Homo sapiens: one gene and its partners. The protein of the gene in region 1 purifies or fractionates together with the protein of each later gene. This does not show direct contact. Each region holds a gene or a part of one and is shown in the gene's direction. Other genes may lie near its edges.

Evidence for each region.
Region 2: the proteins of TNFRSF10A (region 1) and LSS purify together in Homo sapiens (affinity purification with mass spectrometry; 2 studies listed by BioGRID and IntAct, with this or other methods). This does not show direct contact.
Region 3: the proteins of TNFRSF10A (region 1) and CARNMT1 purify together in Homo sapiens (affinity purification with mass spectrometry; 2 studies listed by BioGRID and IntAct, with this or other methods). This does not show direct contact.
Region 4: the proteins of TNFRSF10A (region 1) and CFLAR purify together in Homo sapiens (affinity purification with western blotting; 5 studies listed by BioGRID and IntAct, with this or other methods). This does not show direct contact.

Annotation. Positions count from the first base shown.
Region 1 is NC_000008.11:23,222,086-23,229,968, reverse strand, and holds the start of TNFRSF10A (tumor necrosis factor receptor superfamily member 10A), read left to right. Parts: upstream 1-4,866; 5' UTR 4,867-4,907; coding exon 4,908-5,213; intron 5,214-7,883. UniProt on the Homo sapiens protein: Receptor for the cytotoxic ligand TNFSF10/TRAIL. The adapter molecule FADD recruits caspase-8 to the activated receptor.
Region 2 is NC_000021.9:46,225,767-46,233,438, reverse strand, and holds the start of LSS (lanosterol synthase), read left to right. Parts: upstream 1-4,664; 5' UTR 4,665-4,693; coding exon 4,694-4,707; exon of another isoform or gene 4,708-4,839; coding exon 4,840-5,005; intron 5,006-5,748; coding exon 5,749-5,887; intron 5,888-7,672. UniProt on the Homo sapiens protein: Key enzyme in the cholesterol biosynthesis pathway. Catalyzes the cyclization of (S)-2,3 oxidosqualene to lanosterol, a reaction that forms the sterol nucleus.
Region 3 is NC_000009.12:75,025,275-75,032,897, reverse strand, and holds the start of CARNMT1 (carnosine N-methyltransferase), read left to right. Parts: upstream 1-4,604; 5' UTR 4,605-4,656; coding exon 4,657-4,886; intron 4,887-5,746; exon of another isoform or gene 5,747-5,845; intron 5,846-7,623.
Region 4 is NC_000002.12:201,126,155-201,133,173, forward strand, and holds part of CFLAR (CASP8 and FADD-like apoptosis regulator), read left to right. Parts: exon of another isoform or gene 1-3,366; intron 3,367-3,574; 5' UTR 3,575-3,711; coding exon 3,712-3,992; intron 3,993-6,626; exon of another isoform or gene 6,627-6,874; coding exon 6,875-6,980; intron 6,981-7,019. UniProt on the Homo sapiens protein: Apoptosis regulator protein which may function as a crucial link between cell survival and cell death pathways in mammalian cells. Acts as an inhibitor of TNFRSF6 mediated apoptosis.

The DNA of each region.
Region 1 (7,883 bases):
AGCCTGGGCAACAGAGCAAGACTGTCAAAAAAACAAAAAAAGAAAAATCAATGAAGTCACAGACAATCTGAAAAAATTATCAACCACCTTGACCTAATAAACATTCATAGAATACTATACCCAACAACTGTAGAATGTTCATTCTTTTTGAGTGCACATAGTATGTTTACTAAGGTAGACCCTATTCTGGGCCTACGAAGAGTCTTAATAAATTTAAAAGGATTGAAATCATACAGAACACTTTCTTTAGTTGCAGTGAAATTGAATTAGAAGTCAATAAGAAATACAAAAAAGACTTTCATATTTGCAGTTTAAACCACCATGGGTCAGAGGAGAAAGCCTGTAGAAATCAGAAAATATTTCAAACTAAATGATGATGCAAAATATCAAAATTTGTAGGACATAACTACAGAAGGACATAGAGAGTATGAGTGCTCGTATTAGTAAACAAAAAAGGATAGAAATCAATGATCTAGGTTTCCACTTAAAAGCTAAAGAAAGAAGAGCAGGCTGGGAACAATGGCTCACTCCTGTAATCCCAGCACTTTGGGAGGCTGAGGCGGGCGGATCATAAGGTCGGGAGATTGAGACCATCTTGGCTAACGTGGTGAAACCCTGTCTCTACTAAAAATACCAAAAAAAAAAAAAAAAAAAAAAATTAGCCAGGCGTGGTGGCAGGCGCCTGTAGTCCTAGCTACTCGGGAGGCTGAGGCAGGAGAATCGCTTGAACCTGGGAGGCAGAGGTTGCAGTGAGCCAAGATCACGCCACTGCACTCCAGCCTGGGCGACAGAGTGAGACTCTGTCTCAAAAAAACTAGAAAAAAAAAAAGAGCAATATAAACCCAGAATAAGTATAAGAAAGGCAATAATGAGAGAAAATCTATAGAATAGAAAACAGAAAAACCCTGAAAGTAATAAAGTTAACACAGACATTATGGCTATTTGAAAAGAATAATAAATCATTAGCGAAACTCATCAAAGAGAGAGAGACAAAACTAAGTTATCAAAATAAAAGAGAGGACATCACTATGATTGCTAAGGATAATAAGGGAATATTGTGAGCAACTTTATGCCAATATATTTAAGAACTCAGATAAAAGAGACAAATGACTTGAAAATTTTTACTTGCCAAAAGAGACATATAAAATAATAGAAAATCTGAAAAACTCATATCTATTATAGGATTTGAATTTATTATCAAAAACCTTCAGACACATACATACCCCAAAAGAAAAACAACAAAAATTATCACCAAGTCCAGATGGTGTTACTGGTGAATGGTATCAAACATTGAAAGAAGAAATAATGCTAATCTTATAAGACTCTCAGGAAACTGAGTTTATTTTATAAAGCCAGAATAATGAGTATACCCAAACTTAGAAAGACATTACAGAAAAAGACAATGATAAATCAATATCTCTCATGAATACAGACACAAAAATATGCTTAAGAAAGTATTAGCAAATCAAACCTAGCAATATGTAAAAAAGATAATACATCATGACAAGTGAAATTTGACCCAGGAATTCAAGTTAGATGCAACATTTGAAAGTCAATTTGATTAAACATTTGAATAGCATAAAAGAGAAAAACAATATAATCATCTCAATAGACGCCAAAAAATAACATTTGATACGTTTCAAAGTGTCAAACGTTATTGTTTATTGTTATATTTCACATTCTATTAATGGTAAAAACAGCAAAGTAGAAATGAAAGGGAATTTGATCTGGTAAAGGGCATTGTCTCACTCCATTTCCTGCTGCTATAACCAAATACCACAGACTGGGCAACTTATAAAGAAATTTATTTCTTACAGTTCTTGAGGCTGGGAAGTCCAAGAGCATGAAGCTGTCCTCTGGTGAGGGTCACCACACAACAGAAGAGCAGAAGGCCGAAGCAGGCCTAGGTGAGAGAGAGGGAGGAAATCATGCCAAACTCATTATTTTTTATCAGGAACCCACTCACATGAAAATTAACCCAGTCCTGAGACAATAGCGTTAATCCATTCATGAAGATGGAGCCCTCATAAGCTAAATCACCTCTTAAAGGCCCCACCTCCCTGGTCAACATGGTGAAATCCCGTCTCTACTACAAATACAAAAATTAGCTGGGTGTGGTGGTGGTGCGTGCCTGTACTGACAGCTACTGGGGAGGCTGAGGCAGGAAAATCGCTTGAACCCAGAGACAGAGGTTGCAGTGAGCCGAGATCGCACCACTGCAGTCTAGCTTGGGCAACACAGCGAGACTCATCTAAAAAAAAAAAATTGGCGGGCATGGTGTCTCAAGCCTATAATCCCAGCACCTTGGGACGCCAAGGCAGGCAGGTTGCCTGAGCTCAGGAGTTTGTGACCAGCCTGGGCAACACGGTGAAACCCCGTTTCTACTGAAAATACAAAAATTAGCCAGGCACGGCAGCATGTGCCTGTAGTCCCAGCTACTGGGGAGGCTGGGGCAGAAGAATTGCTTGAACCCAGGAGGTGGAGGTTGCAATGAGCCGAGATCAGGCCACTGCACTCCAGCCTGGGCGAAAGAGTGAGACTCTGTCTCAAAAAAAAAAAAAAAAAAAAAAAAATTCAACATGAGTTTTGGAGAGGACATTCAAACTACAGCAGGCATCTATGAGGAAACTATAACTAACATCATATCTAATGGTGATTAATTAGATGTGTTCTAAGATATGGAATAAGATAAGCATGTCTGCTTTAACTATTTCTATTTAACATTGTACTGGAAATCCTATCCAGGGCAATTCAGCAACAAAGATGAATAGAAGGTATAAAGATTGGAAAGGAAGAACTGAGACAGTTTTTGGTTACTGACAATAGGATTGCTTACATAGAAAATCCTAAATAATCTATAAAATAACAACTAGAAATATATCAATTTAGCAGTACCATAGCATACAAGGCCGATGGACAAAAATCAACTGTATTTCTGTATAGTTGCAACAAACAATTTGAAAATAAGGGAAGCTAAATCAATTCCATTAGCAATAGTAACAAAAATAGTTAGAAATATGTTTACAAAAGATATGAAAGATTTGTACATGGAAAGTTTGCAAAATATTGTCAAGCTTAAGTAACAAATATCTAAATAAATAAATTTCATGGATTGAAAGACTCAAAATTGTTAAAATGTCAATTATTCTCATTCATCTCTACATTCAATGCAATCCCAATTAAAATTCCAGTAGGCTTTTTTAACTGAAAAAAATTATTCTATATTTAATATATACGGAAATGCAAACCATTTGGGAGGTGGGTAGTAGGGGGAGGACTTGAACTGCCTGATTTCAAGACTGACTATACAGCTCATAATTAGGACAATGTGGTAATTAGCATGAGAATAGCCAAATAAATAAACGGAACAGAATAGAGTCCGGAAATGGACACATACATATATATGGTCAATTTAATTTCAACAAAAGTGATAAGGCTATTGGATAAGGAAAAAAAGTCTTTTTTTTTTTTTTTTTTGAGACGGAGTTTCCCTCTTGTGGCCCAGGCTGGAGCGCAATGGCTCCATCTCGGCTCCCCGCAGCCTCTGCCTCCCGGGTTCAAGCGATTCTCCTGCCTCAGTCTCCCGAGTGGCTGGGATTACAGGCATCCGCCACCACGCCCCGCTAATTTTGTATTTTTAGTAGAGGCTGCGTTTCTCCATGTCGGTCAGGCTGGTCTCGAACTCCTGACCTCAGGTGATCCGCCCGCCTCGGCCTCCCAAAGTGCTGGGATTACAGGCGTGAGCCACCGCGCCCGGTCGAAAAGAGTCTTTTCAACAAATGGTACCGGAACACCATTAAAATATGGAGAAAAATGAACATCAATCAGCGCCCCCTTTCTCTTACCCACTCCTCAGCCCCAAGGTCGCCCTGGGAGTTCTTCGCAGGCAGGACCGTGACTCGCGTGGCTTTCGGGAGGCTGATTACCCACGCCCCATGCCCGTGCAGCGCTGGGTGCAGAGGAACCGCTGGAAGGACCTGTCCCCCGTGGGACCCCCACCAAGTCTCATCCCGTGTCATGTGCCAGATAGTCTCCCGTGGTTTAAGGACTTTCAAGACTCTTAACAGGTTAGGAAAATCCAGAAGAAAGGCAGAATTGGGTCCCTCGGGCTTGCCTGACACCAGGGACGGTGGAGTTGAGGTGACATTTCACTGGCATGGAGACCTGAAACCAAAAGCAGGATGAGCCGGGCACGGTGGCTCACGCTTGTAATCCCAGCACTTTGTAAGGCCGAAGCGGGCGGATCACGAGATCAGGAGCTCGAGACCAGCCTGGCCAAAACAGTGAAACCCCCGTCTCTACTAAAAATAGAAAAAAAATTAGCCGGACGTGGTGGCGGGCACCTGTAATCCCAGTTACTCAGGAGGCTGAGGCAGGAAAATCGCTTGAACCTGGGAGGCGGAGGTTGCAGTGAGCCGAGATCGTGCCACTGCACTCCAGCCTGGGCGACAGAGCTTGACTCCATCTCAAAAAAAAAAAAAAAAAAAAAAGGCAGGCTGAATCACTCGCCCGGTAGTGACGGAGGAGGCCGTAAAAGCCTCTTAGAGGCCAGACCCCGCAGTGGCCTCTGTGTCCTTCATTCCGCCACCCATCCGTCCACCGAGCGCCTGCTGGGTGCCAGGAACTGGGTCACAGAAAGGCTGAGGTCAACTCCCGACCGAGAAGCCTGGCGCTGGGACCAAGTGGCAAAACGACTCCGAATGCAGCGGCATCCACGCGGCGGCCGTGGTTGAGGAACAGAAGCTGAGAGCGGCAAGGGCGGTCACAGAGGAAGGAAGTTCAGGGTTAGCCAACAGGAGCCGCAGGTGCCCCGAAAAGGGGGCGGGGTCAGGGGTGCCCTGAACTCCGAATGCGAAGTTCTGTCTTGTCATAGCCAAGCACGCTGCTTCTTGGATTGACCTGGCAGGATGGCGCCACCACCAGCTAGAGTACATCTAGGTGCGTTCCTGGCAGTGACTCCGAATCCCGGGAGCGCAGCGAGTGGGACAGAGGCAGCCGCGGCCACACCCAGCAAAGTGTGGGGCTCTTCCGCGGGGAGGATTGAACCACGAGGCGGGGGCCGAGGAGCGCTCCCTACCTCCATGGGACAGCACGGACCCAGTGCCCGGGCCCGGGCAGGGCGCGCCCCAGGACCCAGGCCGGCGCGGGAAGCCAGCCCTCGGCTCCGGGTCCACAAGACCTTCAAGTTTGTCGTCGTCGGGGTCCTGCTGCAGGTGAGTCCCCACCGCGGTCCTGCCTGGGGAAAAGCGCGCCTGGCACCGGGAGGGGGCAGAGAGAGAGGGGGACGCGGCGGGGGTGCCTGGCCCGGGTCACTTGTGGCGGGGCATGTCCGGGCAGGAGGAGCCCGTCGTCGGAGTCGGAGGAAGAACGGGGTCCCCGGGGCCAGGCAGGAGCGACCCGGGCCTGGAGGCAGCAGAGCCCCCTCCCGCAGGAGGCTGGGCCCGGGGACTCCACCCCGTTGGCTGCTGCCTGGCGCGTCTCCCTCCTGCCCACACCTCACGATGTATCGGGAAGTTTCGGAATCGATAGAGCTCAAGTGTGTAAACTTCCAAGCCAACTCCCAGCCACACCAGCTGCGTGAAGGGGAGCGCCATTCTCCCCACTCCCTGATTCCCTCCCCACCCCCGTCCTTCTTTTCTTCTCTTCTTTTTTTTTTTTTTTTTTTTTTTGAAACGGAGTCTCTCTCTGTCGCCCAGGCTGGAGTGTAGTGGCGCGATCTCGGCTCACTGCAAGCTCCGCCTTCCTGGTTCAAGCGATTCTCCTGCCTCAGCCTCCCGAGTAGCTGGGAGTACAGGCTCCTGCCACCACGCCCGGCTAATTTTTTGTATTTTTAGTAGTCACGGGGTTTCACTGTGTTAGCCAAATCCGCCCGCCTCGGCCTCCCAAAGTGCTGGGATTACAGGCGTGAGCCACCGCGCCCGGCCCTCCATCCTTCTTTTCTTAGACAAATTGGTTAAACACGCAGCCCGGCAGGAAAAAGTAACTTTCTCTCCTCTGCTCGTTGTCTTCCGTTTCGAGTCCACTGAGCACACCGGCAGCAGTTTCCTTCCAGCCACTTTCTTGCGCATCAACAGGTACAGGGCAGCGAATTGACCACCACGAGGCAGGCAGCCAGGAGCGGGGCACGCCCTTCCTTCAGGAGGCAGCGTTTCCTGTGAAAGCAATCACTCAGTCTGGAAAAATGCCAATGCCTTCAGTTCTCTTTCAAGTTCATTAAGGCTCTACCAATTGTTCTCATCCAGATTCCTTCTATGTTAAGGAAAAACAAAACGAAAGCTAAGTACCTGAAGGATAAACCAGTCTTACAAGTGTCAGGAAATTTTACGTGTTTTTGTTTAACAAACTAAACAAAATCCAGGAATCCAATAGCATTTTGAAATCTCCAAATAATTACAGAATTTATGTTTTAAACGTCAGTTTATGTTAGGTGGAACCCACGTTTGACTCTTATTTTTAATACGCTTATTAAATGGCTTTCTTTTTGACAGGCTAGTGCGATTCCAGGTGGATGTAGGGCTCACCTGTATAGACAAGGTGAAACATCTGAATTTGGTGGTTTTGGAAATGTCACAGTCCGTTGGTGTGGCTATAAAAGAATACTTGAGGCCAGGCGCGGTGGCTCACGCCTGTAATCCCAGCACTCTGGGAGGCCGAGGCGGGCGGATCACGAGGTCAGGAGATCGAGACGATCCTGGCCAACACGGTGAAACCCCGTCTCTATTAAAAATACAAAAAATTAGCCAGGCGTGGTGGTGGCCGCCTGTAGTCCCAGCTACTCGGGAGGCTGAGGCGGGAGAATGGCGTGAACCTGGGAGGCGGAGCTTCCAGTGAGCCGAGACCACGCCACTGCACTCCAGCCTGGGCGACAGAGGGAGACTCCGTTTCGGAAAAGAAAAAAAATAAAAAAGAAAACTTGACGCTGGATAATTTTAAAAGAGGCTTATTTGGCACATGGTTCTGCAGGCTGTACAAGAAGCATGCCACCAGCATCTGCCTCTGGTGAGGCCTCAGGAAACTTCCACTGGTGGTGAAGGGGAAGGACAGCTGGATTCTGCCCATCAGGGGAAGGGGTGGGGAGGATGGCAGGAGGAGGGGGATGAGATCCGGAAGGGAGACGGGGAGGGGCCAGGTTCATTCTAACAACCAGGTGTCATGGGGAACTAAGATTGACAACTCCTGGGGGAATGTGGGAGGGGGCGGTTATGGCACCAAGCCTTTCATGAGGGATCCACCCCAAACCCCAACAGGCCCCACCAGCTACATTACGGTTCAGATTTCAACGTGAGCCCTGGCAGGGACAAAGGACCCGTAGCAGACACCAAGGCCTTCTGCCATCCCACAGGACCCTCTCATCCCACCATCCCTCAGCCTTCTTCCTGTGCATTTATAGGCACCTTAACTTTTAAAATTCTGACTGAAGAACAAATCGCATTGGATGTTTTCTATCAGTACATGCAAGTATCTCATTCTTTTTAACAGCATCATAATATTTAGTGCATGGGTGAAACACATGGCGTGAACCACAGTTAATTTTAATCTTCCATCCCATGGGCAATTGTTAACATTATGTCCTGCTTTTGTTTTTTCTAATTCCAGCAGCATTGTAGTGAGAACCCTTGTATGTGTCATATGTCCATATGTCAATGTTCCCTGAAGTATCGGGCAGCCCTTTAGAAGAGGAATTTTTAGGTACATGAGCTCATCAATGTAGAATTTTGTTTGGATATTGCTAAATTGTACTTCGGGAGAAGATTGTGCCAGTTTTACTCTCACACCAAGAATACAAAAGTGTGGCCGGGTGCGGTGGCTAACGCCTGTAATCCCAGCACTTTGGGAGGCCGAGACAGGTGGATCACGAGGTCAGGAGATCCAGACCATCCTGG
Region 2 (7,672 bases), on another chromosome or scaffold:
AGGATAGGGACTGGACATCTGAAAGACCAGGGCATGATTAGAGGGGTTGAAACTTTCAGCCCACCCCCCAAACTCCCAGAGGTTGGGGGAGAGGGACTGAAAGTGACGTTGATCGCCAGTGGCCAATGATTTAATCAATCATGCCTATGTAATGAGGGCTCCTAAAAACCCAAAAGGACAGGGTTCAGAGAGCTTGTGGATAGCCAAATGTGTGGGGGCTTCCAGGAAGGTGGACAAGAACACGTCCACATGCTGAGAGAATGGCACTTCGCAACTCCTTGCAGACAGAAGCTCCTGCTCTTGGGACTCTTCTAGGCTTCATCCTGTGTATCTTTTCATCTGGCTATTTGTAGCCTTTAAAATAGCCTTGTAATAAACATGTGTTTCCCTGAGTTCTGTGAACTGCTCTTGTAAATTAAAGCCAAGGAAGGGGTCTTGGGAACCCAGAAGGACAGGTAAAACAACCTGGGGCTTGTGATTGACACTGGACATGGGGCTCAGTCTTGCGGCACAGAGTCCTCAACTTGTGTGATCTGCTGCTATCTCCAGGTAGACGGTGCAGGATTGAAGCGGATACCCAGCTGGTGTCTGCTGTACAGCTGAATGCTTGCTTGTCGGTGGGGAGAAATTCTCTACATCTGGTGCCAAAAGGATGTTGTGAGAGTAAAGAAATGGTTTTTTTTTGTTTTTTGGACTTATCTATCCTTACGTTTGATTCATCATTTGAATGAGAATAGAATTTTAGATTGGAAATCGTTCCTTTGTGTTTTTGCTTTTTTTGTTGCTGGAAATTTTTGAGATCATCTCTATTCCTGGTGTTCTCAAATTTCTCAATGACATTACTTCATATGTTGCCTCCCCATTCCCTCCCCAACCCCTGCCCAATTTATTGTGCTGGGCACTTTGTAGTCCTTTTTTCTAGTTTTTTTGTTGCTATTGAACAAATTACCCCAAATATAGTAGCTTAAATTTGAGGAGGATTCAGCTGGGCAGCTTTCTGTTGGGATCTCTCATGCAGCTGCAGTCAGGTATTGGCTGAGGTTATAGTCATCTGAAGGCTTGACTGGGTCAGTGGTCCAAGATGGATCACTTGCATGGCTGGAGGTAATGTTGCACTGTTTTCCCCAAATGTCTGGCTCATGCTGATGATGGTGCTTGTTGGAAACTGTCAATGGGTACAGTCTGCCAGCTAATAGGTTTGTTTTTCTACTAGGTCATAGTTGCCAGTGTTTGCAGGACTCTTGTGGGCCAGCTGCTCCAGAGGGATCCTCCCACTATCTCATGCTATCTGGCTAAGTGGGAGAAGTGAGCCTGGACCCACATGTGTAGACTTTAACTCAATCTGTCTGCTTTCAGTGGTCCTCAGCTATGCCTCATGCCTGAGGTAACACCTACTCTGATTCAACTACTGGAGACTTCCTCCACCCAAGTAGGAGAGGGGATCTATGGTCATACTGTTCCTCACAAAAATTTTCCACCAGTTATTCCAATTTCTGCACCTTCCTGGTATTTGCTGGCAGGAATGGTCTCTTGTTGGCTTCACCCACAAACGTAAGTCTCAACTTTCTCTAGCTAACTCAGTTATCACTTCTCCATCCATTCCCAGTCTCTATAATTTTGTTGACTTCTCTTGCTTACTAGTGTCTCCTCTCCCATTCTTTGTGGGGTTTTTTTGGTCTTTTATTACTTTATGTGAGTAGGGTTTGGGCAGGAAATGGAGGTTAATGTTTATGCTCAGTCTGCCATGTTTAACTGAAAATTTCTTTCAAAATTCTGCCATTAGGCTTTTCCCCCCATGTCTCTTTAGATAGCTCTTGTCAGTCACCAATACATTGTTTTGTTGCATCCAATAATAAATTCTGTCTTCATTTTGCAATCCCTTCAAAGCCTCAGCAAAGATCACCATGTCTTCACTTATATTATGACTTCATATTCCTCTGGTTTTCCTCCTCTCTCTGGCCATTCCTCTATACTGGAAAAGGTCGGTGCCCCAGGGCTCATTCTAGAACTTCTCTTTTTTATGTGCATTTCCTAATTCATCTTGTCCAATCTCATGATTTCAAATACTACCTGAAAGCAAATGACTCCCAAATTCCTATCTCTAGCATTATGTTCTCTCCTGAATGCCAGCCTACTCAATATTTCACTTGAATGTCTAATAAGCATCTCTAGTATAACTTGTCCCCACTTTAATCTGAATTTTCCAATCAAACTTTCCCTATTTTAGGCCAGGTGTGGTGGCTCATGCCTATAATCCCAACACTTTGGGAGGCTGAAGTGGGAGGATTCCTTGTGGCCAGGAGTTTGAGACCATCCTGGGCAACATAGCGAGACCCCGTGTCTCTACCAAACTTTAAAAAAATCAGCCAGGTGTGGTGGCACACGCCTGTAGTCCCAGCTATTCAGGAGGCTGAGCCCGGAAGATCACTTAGCCCTGGAATTTGAGGCTGCAGTGAGCTAATGATTGTGCCACTGCATTCCCACCTGGGTGACAGACTGAGATCCTGTCACTAAATAAATAAAAGACACCTCTATTTTAGTAAATGACCACCACCATATACCCAGTTGTTGAGGCCAAAATCCTCAGAGCCTTCTGTATCTGGCTTAATGAATAAGCTGGATGCAGTAGTATGTAAGCAGATAGGAACAGTGTTTTTTCTCATGACTGCCCCTAGAAGCTTAACTGTGTCAATTCTCAGACGTAGTTTACAGCTTTTTCTTTTCTTTCAGACATTAAAAAGAGCGGATTATTTTACTCATAAAAAGTCCAGTCCATTAAGATATCAAAACTCAAACTCTTATCCAGTTGAAACCTCTTCCCTCACCTAGCTTTGCCAGGTTCAGTGTGAGATTCCATCCAGGCTGAAGCCCCTTATCCCTATTCTTCATGTTTCTACATGGAGGAACTTACCTGGAGAAAAACTTCCAGCCTCTTTCTGCTTCCAGAGAAGTAGAGTGACTCATTTGATTGAATTTCAGAGAACAGATAGGGTGGAGTGTGCTCAGGCTCCTCTGGGTACTCTTTCTGGGGTCTGTGGGTTGACTGGAGGGGTGTCTTCTGGTGGGCACTCAATTGCATAGTGCTTGGTGAGGCAGTTTCATGGCCTAGAGGCTGGGGGATATGTTTGTCTGACTTAACGGGTGATTTAGTAGCTTGCCCTCTTGCTTGCAGATTTAAGCCTTGTCCTTCAAGCTAGGTTTTTAATTTGTGGCAAAGCTGATATTTTGATACCCACCCATCTTATTGCTGTGTCTTTTTCATCCGTTTCTGAACTGGGATAGGAAGAGGTGATTATCCTTGATTGTCTAAAACCCCGCTATTCCACTGTGGGGAAGGTGCCTGTGGGTATTCTTTTGTCCACTCTCTCTTCCAACTTTCTCCTCCGGCTTGCTGTGGCTCACCGCCCCTTCGAAGTTAGGCTGGGGGTAGGAATTGAGGAGTGGGTGCCGAAATGCTCACTAGGCTGGGGCAGTTGTAACTGGATGTCAGGGCTTCTGTGGGCCAGGTGAAGACATGCTGGGGTCTTCTGTGGGTCCTTGACCTGACTTACGGACCACTGGCTGCAGCCTCCAGACGTCAGCCATGTTTCCAACAGTCAGACGCCCCCTGCCCTGTTGCGCCCGGCTGTCCCTTCCAAGTTCGGTCACTCGCTCTGCCTCCATCTTCCTCTTCCCTCTGCTGCTAAGGCTTTTCACCTTTAATTTCTCCTGGGGCCACCCCCAACTCCAGCGACCCCGTGAGCAGCTGAGGCTCTACCGCGCTCGGTCCTGGCCAGCGACGCAGCCCTTCCCTGGCGGGGCTCCAGGGCTTCTGGCCCCTGTGGTCCGCCAGGTGTGGGGGCCCACGGCCTCACCGCGCCTACCCCACTCCCCCCGGCGAAGCTACGCGGCGCTCAGCTTCCCAGGGACGCCGGCGGCGCCCTCGGCTCCTCCGCTCCGCCCCGCCCTCCCCCTGGTCTCGCACTGGAGCCGACGGCCCGCGCCCACCTCACCTCAGGGCGGCCTCCCGCCCCCACCCCCGGCCCCGGCGTCCGGGCAAATCCTGCAGCGCGAGAGCAATTCCCTGCCACCCGACCTTCGCACTCGCTGTCGCTCGCTCGAGCCTCGCTCCCCACGTCCTTCCTTCCGACCCGCGGCTGGACCCTCCTCACAAATTTCTCAGAGAGGCTCACCTCAAAGCGCGGCGCACGAGGCCGGGCTCCCGGGACGCAAGCCTCTAGAGGGCGCGCGAGAGGCCCCGCCCCCGCCCTTCGGCCCCACCCACCAGCCCCGCCCCCACCCGCACCCACCAGGCCCCGCCCCCACCTCCCCACCCACCAGCCCCGCCCCCACCTCCCCACCCACCAGCCCCGCCCCTCATGCCCCGCCAATAAGGCCCCACCCGCCTCCCCCGTCCCGTCGCCTTCACCCACCATCCCCGCTCCCTCAGGCCCCGCCCCACGCCGCATGGGGCACCAAGCGCTCCACCACTGTGGTCGCCTGGCACACCCCGGGGTCACGCTCGCGGCGCTCTGATTGGTTGCGTGGGCGTCGGCCCACCTAAGCCTGAGCGCCTGCCGAGGCCTGCGCCTGCGTAGTGCGCGCGGGAGGGGCGGGAGGGGCGGGAGGGGCGGGAGGGGCGGGGCTGGGCGGCAGGTCCCGGGTGCGGACATCTGGCAGCTGGCAGTGGGCGGCGTAGAGCACTGCAGCAGCAATGACGGAGGGCACGTGAGTCCCCTCGCCCCGGGCTCCTGACGAATGCGGGGTGGTCCTAGGTGCTGAGGAGAGCGCGACTGGGGCAGTGGGCCGGCGGCCGGCGTTGGGGCGGGGCCTGGGTCGCTGATGGCCGGTGGTCCTCAGGTGTCTGCGGCGCCGAGGGGGCCCCTACAAGACCGAGCCCGCCACCGACCTCGGCCGCTGGCGACTCAACTGCGAGAGGGGCCGGCAGACGTGGACCTACCTGCAGGACGAGCGCGCCGGCCGCGAGCAGACCGGCCTGGAAGCCTACGCCCTGGGGCTGGACACCGTAAGTTGCTTCCGCGGAGCGTCAGCGAGCTCGGGACCCTGAGGGGTGAGCCGTGAGGAGCACGTTTTCTCTCAGAAAGGCGGGTGGGAGGACCCGGCCAGCGACGCCCATCCCCAAGGCGAGCGCCCACGGGAACTGCGTTCGCGGGCCCCTCCGCTTCAGCCCCTTCATCTCTAAACCACGCATAGGAGACTCCTAATGTTTTATTTTTTAGCACCTTATTTTGAGATAATTTTTGACTTATAGGAGAGTTGCAAAGATAGTTGTAACTTTGTTTTTATTCACAAAAAGTGTTTGGATCCACTGTCTTAGTTGTGTGCATTGTAAGAGATTTTGGTCGTCAGAGTCTGCAGTGTAAACAGGGTCTCCTGCCGAGCCCCGGCCACCGAGGGAAAGGCTGTGCCGCCCCTTGGGCCCTCTTTGAGAGGCCCGAGTCCCAGGCCCAGGTCGGCACCCGTGCCCCACCCTACAGTCTGGGTGCCTGGTTTATTCCAGACATCTTGGAGAAGTTGTGAAGAATACATGACTGGCAAATAAAGCAACGAAAATGTGCAGCTGTTCTTTTACTTTGCTGAGGTGTGATGCTCTCATCAAAGAGTTTCAGACTTTTGATGGAAACAGCTGAAACTTTTAAAGTAATTTACATTCACTGTTTTGACTTGGGCTGTATGTGAAGAGGGTTCCTCTGGCCGGGCAACAGTCCCGTCAGCTATCTCTTTTTTTTTTTTTCGATCTCTTTGCAGAAGAATTACTTTAAGGACTTGCCCAAAGCCCACACCGCCTTTGAGGGGGCTCTGAACGGGATGACATTTTACGTGGGGCTGCAGGCTGAGGATGGGCACTGGACGGGTGATTATGGTGGCCCACTTTTCCTCCTGCCAGGTAGGAGTATGCTGCCCCAGCCTGATGGTATGGCCACCCTGGATCACCCTTGGGATCCTGGCCCAGCCTGGTCTAGGGTTTTGATGAAGCAGGTGAAAATCCAGGGGCTCACAAGAAAAGGGCTGGCAAACTCTGCCCTATGTCAGAGTCGTCCTGCTATTGGTCTAGGGGATCAGCTAGCCTTGCCAGTGTAGGGTGACAGGCTCTCTGATAAGAGAAGCAAGTGGTTCTCTAGGGCTCTGTGTTGCCTTGAGGGAGGAGGAAGGTGGGCTTTGAAGTCTCAGTACAGGATGGGATGGACATTCCAGGTGGAAGGCCCAGCCTATGCCAAGGGGCTGTAGGTGGGCAGAGTGGTGGGTGGGGAGCTGATATCTGCTGTGAACTTCCTCGGGGCTATTGCAGGAGAGCTTCAGGTTCAGGCTGGTGAGTAGGAGGAGCATAGCAGTTGGACTGCCTGGGTATTGAACTGATTTGGCTACACAAGACTATTTTGCATCCTGGGAGTGTTTCTCTACAGAAATCCTCAGCCTTGTAAAATGGGAAATTCCCTCCTATGAATTTATGCAATAGGACTTTTTTCCCTAGTGACTTGTAATCACATTGTTTCAATGACGTGAATTCCTACATAAATAGGTTTTGTTTCTGTGATAACTCTTACTGATACATCATTTTCTTTTACTACGCTGACTTTGTAATAGATAGAAAGTCCTTATATACCTTTGTTGCCTTTCTTTTTAAAACATCTCTTACCTGTGTCTATTCATTTACTCATCCAAATTGCCTTTATCCTGATTTTGTCCCAGACTTGAAATGAAGTTGCAATAGGCTTATATGTTAGTTTGGGAAGAGTTGGCCTTTAACGTTAAAAACAGTTCCATGGTGTTTACTGTAGGCCAAGCCCTGCTCAAGGCCTGTTCTTCTTTTAGTCCTTAGAATAAGCCTAATGAGATACATTAGAAAGCTGAGGCACATTTATTCCAGGTAACCAGACTAGCAGGAGGAGCACTGGGATCCCCATCTCTGCTTTGACTTCTAGCCCTGCTGCCACCTGGACTGTACAGCATTGAGTTTTTCTGTCCTGGGATTTGAGGGCCTGTCCTTAGGGGAAGTCAAGGTGCTCTTCTTCCCTTGGCCCCATCAGGGCCTGTTTAGACTGTTCTCAGGGCTCGTGGTAAGGCAATGACATAGAGTTGGTCAGGAGATGGGTCAGCCCCACTTTGCCTCTGTAGCCTGACCTGTGACAGGATTGGAATCAGGTTTGGTCATGTGCACAGTGTCAGGCATGCAGTGGTGCTTGGTCAGTGGGGATTACTGTGTTGTTTGTTCTTGCTGCTTTGGCTCTGGGCTTAGCTGGCTGGGACCCTTCCTGTGGGCTGGCTGTGAGTTGGAGTTTTTTTGTATTTTTTTTTTTTTTTTGAGACAGCGTTCGCTCTTGTTCCCCAGGCTGGAGTGCAATGGCACAATTTTGGCTCGTTGCAGCCTCTGCCTCCTGGGTCCAAGTGATTCTCCTGCCTCAGCCTCCTGTAGGGTCCAGCCCCACAGGGTCGGTAGGTTTTTCTCCCTGTGTGCGGAGATGAGAGATTGTAGAAATAAAGACACAAGACAGAGAGATGAAAGAAAAGACAGCTGGGCCCGGGGGACCACTACCACCAAGACGTGGAAACCGGTAGTGGCCCTGAATGCCAGGCTGCGCTGATATTTATTGGATACAAGACAAAGGGGCAGGGTAAGGAGTGTGAGCCATCTCCAATGATAGGTAAGGTCACATGGGTCACGTGTCCACTG
Region 3 (7,623 bases), on another chromosome or scaffold:
GAAAAAAAAAATCAGCCAGGTGTGGTGGTGCACATCTGTAGTCCCAGCTACTCACAGAGGCTGAGGCAGGAACATCGCTTGAACCAGGAGCTCAAGACTGCACTGGGCCACTGTCACACCACTGCATTTCAGCCTGGGTGAAACAGTGAGACCCTGTCTCTAAAAAAAAAAAAAATAAAGTAAAATAAATACAATCATACAGTATGTAACCCTTTGAGATTGCCCTTTTTTCCATTCAGCATAATCCCTTTGAGATTCTTCCAAATTATTACATATATCAAGAGTTCATTACTTTGTATTGCTGAGTAGCTACAGTTTGTTTAACCATTCATCTGCTGAAGGACATTTGGGTTGTTTTCAATTTCTGGCTTTTACAAATAAAGCTGCTATGAACTTTTATGTACAGGTTTTTGTGTGTACATGTTTTCATTTATCTGAGATAAATGTCTAAGAGCGTAATTGCTGGGTTGTATGGTAAGTGCACGTTCAGTTTTGTAAAAAAAAATCACTATACTCTTTGCATGACAGTTCCCAGTGGCCTTGGACTGATCAACTTCTCCCCAGTTTCTCACTTGTATTAATAGTTCTCAAGAATAACTGTAGAATGTGCTAGGAATGCAATATCCTGAGATAAGGAGGGACTGGCTGAAACAGCCCAGGCTCTGTTCCAGTCCCTCCTAGAAACAGGATGTCCTTCATCATTTTAGCCCAACATGTCATGTTGCCTCCAGAATATAAAACCCAAGATGGTCTGCTTTCCAGGGTCACTCAGCTGTGGTACAAATGGGGTACACACAAATGAGACTCCATCCTTCCGGGGCAACTTTCCTGAGTCTCGGGAGATTGGCTCACAGTGAATCCTATGCTTCGGTTTTCCCTTGTTGCCTAGCTGTAAATAATAAATTCACTTCATGTAACTTGTACACATGGGTGTTCTGTCTCACCAGACTCAGTTGGTAACCAGTGCACAGCAAACCTGCTTTGCACTCTTTTCCAGAGTGGCTGCACCGTGTTACATTTCCAGCAGCAGTGTGCAAATGTATGTAAGCAGTTTAAGTGCTTAACCAACAGTTCTTCAGAATAACTAACAAAAGCACGATGGTGCTTTTTACTTATTAATTCCTGGAGATTAATTGGTCTCCTTCTGATAAAAACATTCCAAATCTTTCAGCTCAAATCACTCTATGGTTTGGGAAGATATCAGTGGAAGAAACTCACTGCAAAGAAGTTAAGTCAAAGAAGTCCTAAGAAAAGTGTTTTAAAACAAGGCTAAAACTTTATTCTAAAGACAACTGAGAGTAGGGAAGGTAACTAAGATTTATTGAGCCTATATACCAGGCATTTTTCAGTCTTTATCTCATGTATTCCTCCCAATGACCCTGTAAAAAGGGTAATATGTCTATTTCATAAATATTACAATTGCCGAGCTTGGTGGCCCATGCCTGTAATCCTAGTACTTTGGAGGCCAAGGCAGAAATATCGCTTGAGCTCAGGAGTTCAAGATCAGCCTGGGCAAAATAATGAGACCTCATCTCTATTAAAAATTTAAAAAAACATTAGCTAGGAGTGGTGGCGCATGCCTGTTGTCCCAGCTACTCAGGAGGCTGAGGTGGGAGGATCACGTAAGGCCAGGAGGTCAAGGCTTCAGTAAGCCATGATCACATCACTGCCCTCCAGCCTGGGTGACAGAGCCAGACTCTGTACCCCACCCCACTCAAAAAAAAGTAAGAAAGAAAAGAAAAAGAAATATAAGAAATATTGCAATTGAAGCTTTACATAATGTTTCATACAGGTTATGGAATTACTAGGTGGTGAAGTGAGAGTGAGAGGCCCATACTTGTAGCTTCTGCTGCCTTCAGCTCAGGGCAAAGAAACATAGAAGGCAATCAACATGTTTGTTGAAAAAAAAAAAGAATAAATGAATGAGTGACTTAACTTCAGCTCTGCTATTTATGTGTCCCTGGGCAGGAAAATTAATTTCTTTGAGTCTATTTCTTCATTTCTTATAGCAAGATAATAATGACATCTAGTTCACAGAGCTAAGGGACAAATAAGGTGATAAACTGGGAAAACAATTTGAAAAATATTAATTAAACAAATGTTAGCTAGCATAATATTTAAAAAGTACAGTCACAGTCATAAACAAATATTGATAAATATAGGTATGAGAGGAGGGTGGGTGTATGAAGATCACTTAATATCTCTGATTCCCTGGTTTCCTCACCTGTAAGATCACAACTGAGTTTAAAGCTGAGCACCTTCATGACACAGACTCTAAGACTCACCAAGTTAGGAGACAGAGTCAAGGAAGCCTCTGCACATAACTTTAATTTGAAAATGTTTATTCTACCTCCGAGGATATTTCAAAGTATGGAGCTGATTATCTTTATCCATGACATTCTGGCCTTTATCAATTAGGTCATTCAGACCTATATCAATACATTTAATGAATTACAACATGTAAAACTTCTGTGCATGTGTACATGAGAACAGTATTAGAAACAGCTACTACTATGAGTGTTTATACATAACTTCCGAACAATTAGTGTTTGGAAAAATAGACATTAGATAGAAAATCTGGAAGAATGGGCAAGGAATTGGTATATTGTGTCTGGAGAGGAACATAGCTGGCTAGGGACAGGTAAAACAATTATTCACACTTGGCCGAGCGTGGCGGCTCACGCCTGTAATCCCAGCACTTTGGGAGGCCCAGGCAGGTGGATTGCCTGAGTTCAGGGAGACTAACCTGCGCAACATGGTGAAATCCCGTCTCTACTTTAGTATTTTCAAATACAAAAAATTAGCCAGGTGTGGTGGCGCATGCCTGTAATCCCAGCTACTCGGGATGCTGAGGCAGGAGAATCGCTTGAGCCTGGAAGGCCGGGAGGTTGCAGTGAGCTGAGATCGTGCCACTGCACTCCAGCCTGGGCAGCAGAGCGAGACTGTCTCCAATTCATATTTGTAATCCTTTGCACTTTCTTTTTGAATTTTGAAACATGTATTACTGCATTACTATTAATAGACTCACGTTTTAGAAAACTTTTATATAAAAATGTTGTCATTTTAAGCATTACCTTTATTTCAACTATTAATTTAAATTATGAAAATATGAAGCCACTTCACTTTCAATATGGTTGTAACTTTTTAACAGACTTTGTGGTCACTGGGCATATTTAACCCCTCGAATAAAGCAATCTTTCCCTTTTATCATTACTTTGTAAGACTCATTTGCTGGGTGGTGGATTAAATTGAACAGAATAAGTTATTTCTTTTTCTTTTCTTTTTTTTTTTTTTTTGAGACGCTGTCTCGCTCTGTCGCCCAGGCTGGATGGCACGATCTCGGCTCACTGCAAGCTCCGCCTCCCGGGTTCACGCCATTCTCCTGCCTCAGTCTCCAGAGCAGCTGCGACTACAGGCGCCAGCCACCAAGCCCGGCTAATTTTTTGTGTTTTTAGTAGAGACGGGGTTTCACCATGTAAGCCAGGATGGTCTTGATCTCCTGACCTCGTCATCCGCCCACCTAGGCCTTCCAAAGTGCTGGGATTACAAGCGTGATTCACCGCGCCCGGCCCCAGAATAAGTTATTTCCCAAGAGCCACCCTTAGATGCTGGTAGGTGTAATGGTCTTCCCAAGACCAGGTGCTGGATAGAAGGTCCTTGCATTTTCCTCATCTGTTGCCATCCTCAGTAAAGGAGGAATTAGGACTGCCGCAAGCCCCTAAAGACTGGAAAGATGGGACGGGCGCGATGGCTCACGCCTGTAATCCCAGCAATTTGGGAGGCCGAGGAGGGTGGATCGCCTGAGGCCAGGAATTCCAGACCAGCCTGGCCAACATGGTGAAACCCCATCTCTACTAAAAATACTAAAATTAGCCGGGCGTGGTGGCGCGCGCCTGTAATCCCAGCCACTCGGGAGGCAGAAGCAGGAGAATCGCTTGAACCCAGGAAGCAGAGGTTGCAATGAGCCGAGATCGCACCACTGCACTCCAGCCTGGGCGACAGAGTGGGGAAAAAAAAAAAAGTGAAAAGATGATGGCGCCCACTTCCGACCCCCTTAAGTAATTAAAAATAGGAATTCATTTAGGAAGTGAATTAAAACTTAAATTAGGGTGGATACAAGACGTTCCTTCTAGACTTTCTGAAATAAAAATTCCGAATAAAATCATCAAAGCCGAACTTTTCCTTTTTGCCTTTCCCTTCTTTGCTAGTGCCTGGGACCGCGTTCAGCCTCCAGCTCAACAATCCGGCACTCGCCGGCTTTTAAGTCCCACCCACGCGGCCGCGCACAGGTAACGGCAGTGCCAGTCCCACCCCACCTACGAGCTCCTCCTCCGCCTCCCACCAAGGGGCCTTGGCCCCGCCCTTGGAAGCGTGGTTGTGACGTCAGCGCGCTGTCTCCGAAGCCCGGCAGCAAATGAGCGCAGACCGCACGGGCCCTCCGCGTACCAAGGCACACGCATGCGCATTGGTTCTGGGAGCCCTGAAGACCTGGCGGAGCCCAGCGCGGATGGAGGCCTGAGGGTGGCGGGGGCGGAGCGCGCCGCGAGCTGGGGGCATGTCCGCGGCGGGCGCCGTCTAGAGGAAGGCCAAGCAGCCGCCACCACGCTGTCGGTCGCGGAGAGACGCAAGCGAGCCAGGCCGAGGGCCGCGGCGGCGATGCAGCGACGGCGTCGCCCTCCGCCGCCCACCTCCCGGCTGCCCGAGGGCTGCGGGGGAGGAGGCGGTGGCAGCGAGGAGGTGGAAGTGCAGTTTTCCGCCGGGCGTTGGGGCTCGGCCGCGGCGGTTTCGGCGGCAGCGGCGGCGGCCACGCGCAGCACCGAGGAGGAGGAGGAGAGGCTTGAGCGTGAGCACTTCTGGAAGATCATTAATGCCTTCCGCTACTACGGGTAAGGAGCCCGTGGCGGACCCCGGCCCAGACCGTCGGGGCGCCCACTGGTGGCGGCGGACCCGCCGGAACGGGGGCGCTCGCCGTCCCGCCGCCACGCCTCCGAGGCGTCGGGACCCGGCTGCTGCAGCTGACCTCCGGGCCCCGAGTCACCTCGCACCACCCCAGCCCCTCCCGGCCCTGCACACCCGCGTGTCCGCCGCGCCGTCTGCTGCACAGCCTCGTGTCTTCTGACCTCAGGATCAGATTAGCTCTCCTGCCTCCGTCCTCGTAAAGGTTTGGCTTTGAGGCCGATGGGGGTGACCAGAGAAGCGCTGTAACAATTTCAGATAGAAGACGATGGTGGTACAATCGTCCACTGCTGGGCTGATTGGTGTGTGTGGTCGATGTCCTCCAAACTGAACACACGGAGAGCCCAAGTTCACCTACGCGTGGGATGCTGTAGGACGTATTTTCCCAAACTGTTACCAGTGCTTGTAAGAGCAGTTTAAGATTTCCACCCACCCCTCTTTGGCGCTGTGAACGCACTTGCACTTTTGTGTGAGCGATTGAATGATGCTGCTCAGTGTCTTTAACTGGTGGGTGATTAAGGGCGGAAGTGGTCCGGATATTCTAAAATTTGCTAATTATTAGGAGAGATGAGAGAAGTCACAATAAGAGCTGCCTTTACGTTCTTTTTTTCTGCAAATCTGTATCTAATTCTCCCTGGTGTGCTAGGCACTGTGGTAGGACCTTTATGCTCCTCATTCATAAAAACAGCTCCCTAACTTCCACGTTTCTTCTAGATAGATGTTAAAGTAGCTTAATCACAAAATTATAATTCCAAGAGCTGAAAGGGACTTAAATCAACTGGATTTTCAGGTGAAGATAACACTTTTATTCACGTAAGAGATATGAGTCCACCGGTGACTATGTTCTGAGGCTGCAGTTGGAATCAGACAGACATGACCTCCTACGCAGGTAAACCTGTTCCCATAGGTGGGTTCCTGCTGTGCTTTATGCAAAGTTTTTTTATATTGTTCATCTTATGTATTATAGTTGTTTTTATAAATCTCTTGCTTTGCTGTGACCTCCTCAAGGGCAGGGGCTGAGTCTTTTTTATTTTTATGTCACTAGTGCTTGGCATATGTTGTTTAAGCTCTATTTTTAACAAAACAAATAGTAGCAAAGAAATACATTTCTCATTCCCAAATAGTCTGTCAAGTTTTTGACTGATAGTTAAATTAGTTTACTAGTCTGAATTTAGAAGCTTGCTTAGTGAAAGCTTAAAGTTATTTGGAATCTGATTGTATATGTGATAGGAACTTTTGAACTTCGAAGATCTTGATGAAATAATTTACTGATTAAACCCAGAAATAGGGACCAGGGACAGCATTACTTTACGGAGCCCAAAAGAGAAGTTTGGATATTTTATTTCTCCAGGTTTAGTAGTAACAGAGGGAGCAAGGCGTCAGACCATCAGAGAATTGAATTTGATGCAGGAATTGTGACGGAAAGAACCATAAAGTTAGGAAAGGCAGCTAACATCAGATAGCTAAGAGTGGGAGATACAGAAAAGTCTGGTACATTTTGCTCTTGAAAAATCTAGAAAGAATATTGGGAAATGTCTTGGGAATATGGTGGACCCATTTAGTTAAGTGCGTAGTTGTACTTACTTTTAATATATTAGGACCAATTTAAAATTGATATTTATGGGTAAGTATGGGATGGGACTTTGTTGGGGTAGGGGTTGATCAGGAACTGAAGTGTGGCAATATAGAGAAGAGATCTTGTGTGAATATTCTAGTGGTTGTGATACTATTTCCTATACTCTCTTCTTTACCAGCGTAATGTTGGATTCAGGACATTTCATTTTTTAAAAAAAACAGTTTTTATTTGTATATACTCTCTTGAAACACTTCAAATACTTGGGCTGAAAATAGTATAACATCAAAAATATGCTTTTTAAAATGTCACTTAAAGCCTAGGGGTACAGAAAGTTTATGTAGCAGAGAACAGTGGATTGTTACATTCTAATATTTTGTGATCTTCTAGACTTAAACTGTAGCCACTAATCATATCTGGATAAATTTAAGCTAAAATTAATTAGTATTTAATAAGCTTTAAAATTTAGTTGCTCAGTTTCACTACCCATATTTCAGGTGCTCAATAGCTACATGTGGCTAGAGTCTGCTGTACTGGACAGTGCAAATAAAAGCTTTTCCATTATCGAAGTAGGTTGTGATGGACAATCCGGTTCTACACATTTAGCAAGTACAGTTGACCCTTAAACAATATGGATCTGAACTGCACGGGTCCACTTATACACAAATTTTTTGAAATAAACATATTGGAAAATTGTTTTGACATTTGCAACAATTTGAAAAACTTAGCAAACTTGCATAGCCTAGAAATAGTGAAAAAATTAAGAAAAAATTATGCCATGAATGCATATGTGTAGATACTAGTTTATCATTTACTACCATAAAATATACACAAATCTATTATAAAAAGTTAAAATTTATCAAAACTTACACAAACACAGATCTTACATGGAGCTATTTGCAATTGAGATAAATGTAAACAAGCAAAGATGTAGCATTAAATCTTAGTTGCATAAAATTATCTGTAGTAGATACTGTACTACTGTAATAATTTTGTAGCCACTTCCTGTTGCTTTTGCAGTAAGCTCAGATGTTACCAGTATCTTCTTAAAATAATCACTCTGCTTTTGTCTGTCAAGTAAATTGCATATAGCA
Region 4 (7,019 bases), on another chromosome or scaffold:
GGGCTAGATTTTCTTTTATACTTTGGTTTAGAAAGGGGAGGGGGGGGTCTAGTTAAAACAATTTTACAGAAGTAAAGTAGGCAAAAAAGTTAAAAGGATAAATGGTTACAGGAAAGTAAACAGTTCCAGGTGCAGGGGCTTTAAGACTATTACAAGGTGATAGACGCGGGGCTTTGGGCGTTATCAATCTGACGAATTCCTGAGAACTGCGGATATTGCTGGCCACAGTATCTTATCAGTTAATTGCATTCTTGGATGTGCTGGGAGTCAGCTTGCACAAGTTAAGTCCTTGCGGAAGGGCTGCCAGTGAAACAGCCAAGATGGAGTCTGTCTGGCTCTCTTAGCTAAGGGAGAGTCAATTCAGGTGAAAACAAGGCTAAGTGATTAAAGGAAAGGGAGAGTCTAAAAACAGCGTTAGTAAAAACAAGGTTGGGCATTACATGATCACTGGGTCTCCACTGTCAGAGGGTCTTTGAGCTCAGTTCTAGTGGCAGCCTCCTGATCCTCACTTCCCTGGCTGAGGCAAGGTTGTTGCAGCAGCCCCAGGAGTCTTTGTTAGAATCCCACCCCAGAGCTCCTTCCTCCAGTCCTCTCAGCAGTTTTGTTAGTTCCAGTATTAAGTGTAATTTCTACAAAAAATGCCTGGAATATTTCTGTTTCCAGAACCGGATGCTCCTGTTAGCTAGTGTGTGAAAGATAACTCTGACTTGCCTAAGCTTTGTTGATGTTTTGAATAATAATTGGCGATAGTCTCTTGACTTCTGCAAGAGAAATGAAACAGAAATTGGTCTCAAGTTTTAGTTGCTCTTGTGAAGGTCAGGGACAGTTTGTACCAGGGTGTGGGTGTGGAAAAGAAGGGGAGATATAGTCATTAAATTAGAATATGCCTGTGAGGGGAGTTAAGGGGAATTCCTTTAAAATTCTAGAAAACACACACAGGTGCCAATTTTGTCTGGCTAGGGAAAAGTAAACTGCTGAAAACACTTGGGGGGAGAAATGAAGCTAATGGTATCTTGATCAGTCAGGAGGATTGGGTATTTGAAAGCAGGGAAGAAAAATAATTGGACTTGGATATTCCTTTGCCCCTTCATCTGAGTAAGGTGAAAGCAAGTGACTCTTCAGAAGAGGCGAATGGGACACTGAGTCCAGCAGCTCAGGCAGGGTGGAGTTGGTAACTGATGGGCACAAGTCTTTTACTGGGCTCTAAAGAACTCATTCATCTGGGTGTGGTGGCTTACACCTGTAATCTCAGCATTTCGGAAGGCTGAGGTAGGAGAATCACTTGAGCCCAGGAGTTTGAGACCAGCCTGAGAAACACAGTGGGACCCTTTCCCTACAAAAAACTGAAGACCTTATGAGCTTCCCTAGTCTAAGAGTAATTTTTATGTTAATTTCTTGGCTTGGGCTTAAACCCCAACAAAGTGGTGATTATTCGGACCCCAGCCCTACCTCTCCCTAGTATGCTCTCCTTTCTCAAGTACTCACCACCTCTAGCCACAGTGAACTGCCTCCAGCATACACACACGCTGCTATTTTGTTGCATCTGAGTGGGCTGGCTCCACACGGGATCTGTAGTTTCCTTTTGATATTTTCTTTCAATGTGCCAGATGCTACCACTGAGTAATCTAGATTTTGCTGCCAAACTCTACCCCCGTTAGCACAGAGGGAAGACAGTATGCCAGTGCTCTTGCTGAGTGTGCGTGACTGGCAGAAAGCAGTCATGGGTGTGATGGTTGGAAGAAACAAACTGAGCAGATAATGTTTTTTAAAATGATTATCTCATTTTGTTAACTCTTGGTGGCATTGTTATATTGTTGATACTTATGAATTACAAAAGTTAGATGACTGTAAAAAAATAGAGAATTAAGCATTTCATTTCTAGTAGTTCTGTTTGGTTCTTTTTCAAATATGTCAGTGAATTTGTATAATATCTCATTTCTTAGTCTTGTGTTTAATGATTTTATTTTTGTGTTTTTATAATTCCTTCTACTGCATATATTTTATACTTTAATTTATAATAACAACTGTTGACAAAATTGTGACTATTCATTAATACAGTAGAAAAGAACTTGGCCTCCTTTTCATGGAAGCTGATGATGAGATTAAAGCACTGTTGGCCTGCGAGTGGAGTATAGATTTGGGCTGTCCAGAACACATAAAATTTGTATTTATCTTTCTGATAAAAAAAAGTAAAATAGTCTGAGTGCCAATTTTTCCACTTTCATTGAGCACATTTAATTTTAGTAAATTTAACTTAGCAAATTTAATTTCTCCAGTTATTTACAAATAATCATATTTAAGTGAAGTTGGGATGAATGGGCAAGCCCATTTCAAATTTCTAACCTAATTTTTCCTCTTGTTTTCATATAAAATTTTTCTATTTATGTGTTTTTATTTTAAGATAGCTCAAATCTTTTGTGGACTGATACTGTATGTATATAAATAAATGGATTCAGTGCTTCTTTCACTAAATACAGCTAGATAAATATATAAATATACTTGAACACAAATACAAAGCAACCATTGGCAATTTAGAGTTGGGTTGTGTTTCCACTTATTTTTTGTTAATAAATTTGATTTTAACCTGAAATATTGTCTTGTAGGAACAGATAAAGAACACAAGAGGTGATTTAACATAAGTTTTAGCTGTGAAACTTAGAGTAGATAGGTTAGCAACTTAAATTTTGAAAGAAAATAGGATGAGTTTCAATGGAAGAAATTAAGAACACACCCATTGCATGAGCTCCTTACCCCTCCTACCCAGCCCCCTCCCAGGAGTGAGATCTTTCCCCAGATCCTCTGTAACTTCCAGATGTTCCACTGAGAACATCAGAAGCACTAATGGCAATTGCTGCCATGTAGCAGTGCATTGAGAGTCAGGGCCTCTGGCACCTCCATGGGGCTCAGGGTCTGAAGACGTGATCCAAACCTGACAACTTGGTGGCAGGTTCTGTGAGCATTCATGATGTTGTGAAAAGGGCTTGGGGTCTAGGAGGATGGCAGCAGAGGTTTCTGCCCTCAGGTGTGAGTGAGGGGCTTTTGAAGTAGGAGAGCAACTAGAAAAAAGGAGTGGCACAGGGACAGAAACTTCTTTTCTCCATTGTTTGTTCAAGGCCACGTGGGTGGAGTCATTGAGGTGGAGGTTTAACTCTGTGACATAAGTTTCCCTGATTTAGTCAGGCTGTCTGTCGTTGGGCTTTTCCCACTTCCTTCTACTACGTACTTCTTCCCTATTCCTCCTACTGAGGCCATTAAACCCTTAGTTGTAATTTTCCCTGAACATGCTTTACATTCTGATGAATTCTGAAAAAGAATGTGGGGTTTCCTTGCAGATGAGTTCATCTGTTGTTTCATTTCCTTTACAATGTAGGTTTTCTTCTCTGTCTTTTTGGATTAGTCTGTTTTTGGTTCTGTCTACCAAGGATCCCTTTCTTTAGACTTCTATAGATCCCTTTCTATAGAACTTAATCTACTTAAGTCAGGGAGACCACCCAGAAGGAAAGAGCCCATACTTTCAATCTTAGGCATAAGTTAGCTTGATAAGATTTTCAGAAAAATTCCCTTTTAACCACAGAACTCCCCCACTGGAAAGGATTCTGAAAGAAATGAAGTCAGCCCTCAGAAATGAAGTTGACTGCCTGCTGGCTTTCTGTTGACTGGCCCGGAGCTGTACTGCAAGACCCTTGTGAGCTTCCCTAGTCTAAGAGTAGGATGTCTGCTGAAGTCATCCATCAGGTTGAAGAAGCACTTGATACAGATGAGAAGGAGATGCTGCTCTTTTTGTGCCGGGATGTTGCTATAGATGTGGTTCCACCTAATGTCAGGGACCTTCTGGATATTTTACGGGAAAGAGGTAAGCTGTCTGTCGGGGACTTGGCTGAACTGCTCTACAGAGTGAGGCGATTTGACCTGCTCAAACGTATCTTGAAGATGGACAGAAAAGCTGTGGAGACCCACCTGCTCAGGAACCCTCACCTTGTTTCGGACTATAGGTAATTCATCAACTCTTCCTGAGGCTGGGTGGGTGGGAGGGAGTGAAGTGTCTCAGACTCTACTGAATGGCAGAAACGAGGATAATAAGAAGTGCAGCCACTTTACTGTCTCTGCCCACTTATCCAACTGCCAGATGATGTCACTTCATTCCTGTGAGCCCTTTAAATTCTTGAAACTTGTTTTCTTGCTTTCTTTTTCTTTCTTTCTTTTTTTTTTTTTTTTTTTTTTTTTTGAGACAGAGTCTCACCCTGTTGCCCAGGCTGGAGTGCAGTGGCGTGATCTTGGCTCACTGCAACCTCCGCCTTCTGGGTTCAAGCGATTCTCCTGCCTCAGCCTCCCAAGTACTTGGGACTACAGGCGTGCGCCACCATGCCTGGCTAATTTTTTTTTGTATTTTTAGTGGAGACGGGGTTTCACCATGTTGGCCAGGCTGGTCTTGAACTCCTGACCTCAAGTGATCCACCTGCCTTGGCTTCCCAAAATGCTGGGATAACAGGCATGAGCCATTGCCTCCAGCTGAAACATGCTTTCTCAAAGGAATTGGGATCATATGCAGGTAGAAGGGCAGCTGGTATGTGTTTGCCTGAAGGATAGAATGACAAGACGTGAAGAAAGATAGGAATGACTAAGAGCTAGTCATTCTTGCCAGCCTCTGACAGTGTGAGATCTGCAGCAGTGTTTACTAGTTCATTTTCTGTGAAGTCAGTCCTTGATAATTTGTGGTACAAAGAAAGGAAATAACAAGTCTGACAGTAATCTTCCTACCTTTGTAGAGACTCCATCATCCCTTCTGAATCCCTGTTGGCCCTACCCTGCTGAGGAAGTTTATCAGGGTGGGCTCCCTTCCTGCACTTCCTGCGCTTGGAGACATTGGAGAGCCCACATTGAAAATCTCTTCAGTTAACCACATTTAAGTCCCTTCAGTCCAAAGAGGAAATGGCCACTGGAGTCTGCTTTAGTTCCCACAAGCTTTGGGTTGCTCCTTCCTCCTGTTCACATGTTAATGTCTTTAGAGGTTCAGAGGGGCATGGAAGCTACTGAGAGACTGACTTCCTGGGGAAAGGAAGATAACTTGTAACCTTAAGTTGGTGTTTTCTTTTTTTTTTTGAGACAAAGTCTCGCTCTGCAGCCCAGGCTGGAGTGCAGTGGTGCGATCTTGGCTCACTGTAACCTCTGCTTCTGGGTTCAAGTGATTCTCCTGCCTTAGCCTCCTGAGTAGCTGGGATTACAGGCACGCACCACTATGTCTGGCTAATTATTGTATTTTTACTAGAAACAGGGTTTTGCCATGTTGGCCAGGCTGGTCTTGAACTCTTAGCCTCAAGTGATCTGCCCTCCTTGGCCTCTTAAAGTGCTGGGATTATAGGTGTGAGCCACCATGCCCAGCCGGTGTTTTTTCTCTCGACCACCAGCCTTTTATTATGTTGATAATGTGTATTTGGAGATGATAATTATTATCAAGAACTATACTAAAGAGAGCTGAAAGCAGTGTGGGCTTTGGAAAGTATATGAGATTTGAACTTGGAAAGCCTGTTTTTTTGGTTTTTGTTTTTTTGTTTGTTTGTTTGTTTTTGAGACAGGGTCTTGCTCTGTCATCCAGGCTGGAGTGCAGTGGCATGATCATAGCTCATTGTAGCTGGAAGACCTGTTTCAAGCCTCAGATCTACCAATTATGGGCCAGGCAGGCTGGGCCAATCACTAACCTTGTTGGGCCTCTGTTTTCCTACTTGTAAAGCGAAAAATAATAATACCTGACTTTACAAGGTTGTTGTGAGCATCAGTTGTAATAATTTACTATGTGAAGTACTTTTTAAACTGTGAAGCACTCTACAGATAGAAGGGATTATTATCATTGTTATTATTATTATTTTTTTAATCTTCCACCTATTCAGCCATCAGTTTTAATGTCAGTAATCTTCAGACTTTCCGGGAGGCACCAACTGAGTTTCAGTGAATAGGGCAATCTCTCCATTTCCCATTTCCTTGCTATGATGAGTGGAGATTCTTCAGGCCCTCTGGGAAGGGTTGCGGGGGCAGTTGAAGAGGAGTGCTAGATTTATTTATTCATCTGGTGAGTGGGCTTCATTGTGTATTGGTGCTAAGTGTTTTGGTAAGCTCTAGGACAAAATGAAAAGTCTGCCATCCTCAAGAATCTGAGAGCCTAACTGGGAAAATGGCCTTGATGACAATGTCATGGTAACAATACTAACCACAGGGTGTCCTTAGGAGCCCCAGAAAAGTGTGGTTGTTGGTTCTCAAAGTCTATTTCCTAGGGGGGGAAAAATATATATATATATATATATATATAGTGTTAGCTCCAGCCACCAGTGAGTCAGGAGAGGCTTTCTAGGCAAAGACATCTAAGTTCAGAATCCTTGTGATCCAGATGCCTGTACCCTTTGAGTTCAGAGGTGGGCCAGGGTATCTCAGGTATTTCTTTCCTTTAGCATCTTGCAATTCAAAATATGGTCCTTGAATCAACATCACCTGAGAGCTTGTTAAACAGAGAAGGCTACTTCAAATTCTATTTCTGTCTTTTATGTTAGTCATTTGGGTTCTTAAGTCATTTCACTGTAACCTCTGGGGGAGCTAGGGGATTCTTTAAGGAAGTTTCCATTCTCTGAGTTGTTTTCAGAAACTGTTAGTTGGCAAAGGATGTACCATCTCCTATTAAACGGGCAAGGACAAGTTCCCTTTTCTGAGGTCCCTTAAGATCTCTTCCTGGGGTGATCTAGGCTTGCTGTTTTATGAGGGAGGGACATATTTACACAGGGGCAAGAACTAGTCTTTTAATCCATTGTTGCATAGGGGAGGCGTGGGCACTTGGAGTTGTCTTAGGACTGATGTCTGAATTAACTAAATGAACTTGTCTGGTTTGCAGAGTGCTGATGGCAGAGATTGGTGAGGATTTGGATAAATCTGATGTGTCCTCATTAATTTTCCTCATGAAGGATTACATGGGCCGAGGCAAGATAAGCAAGGAGAAGGTGAGTTTTCTTCTTTTGGTTCATGGCCCCAGGAGCCTA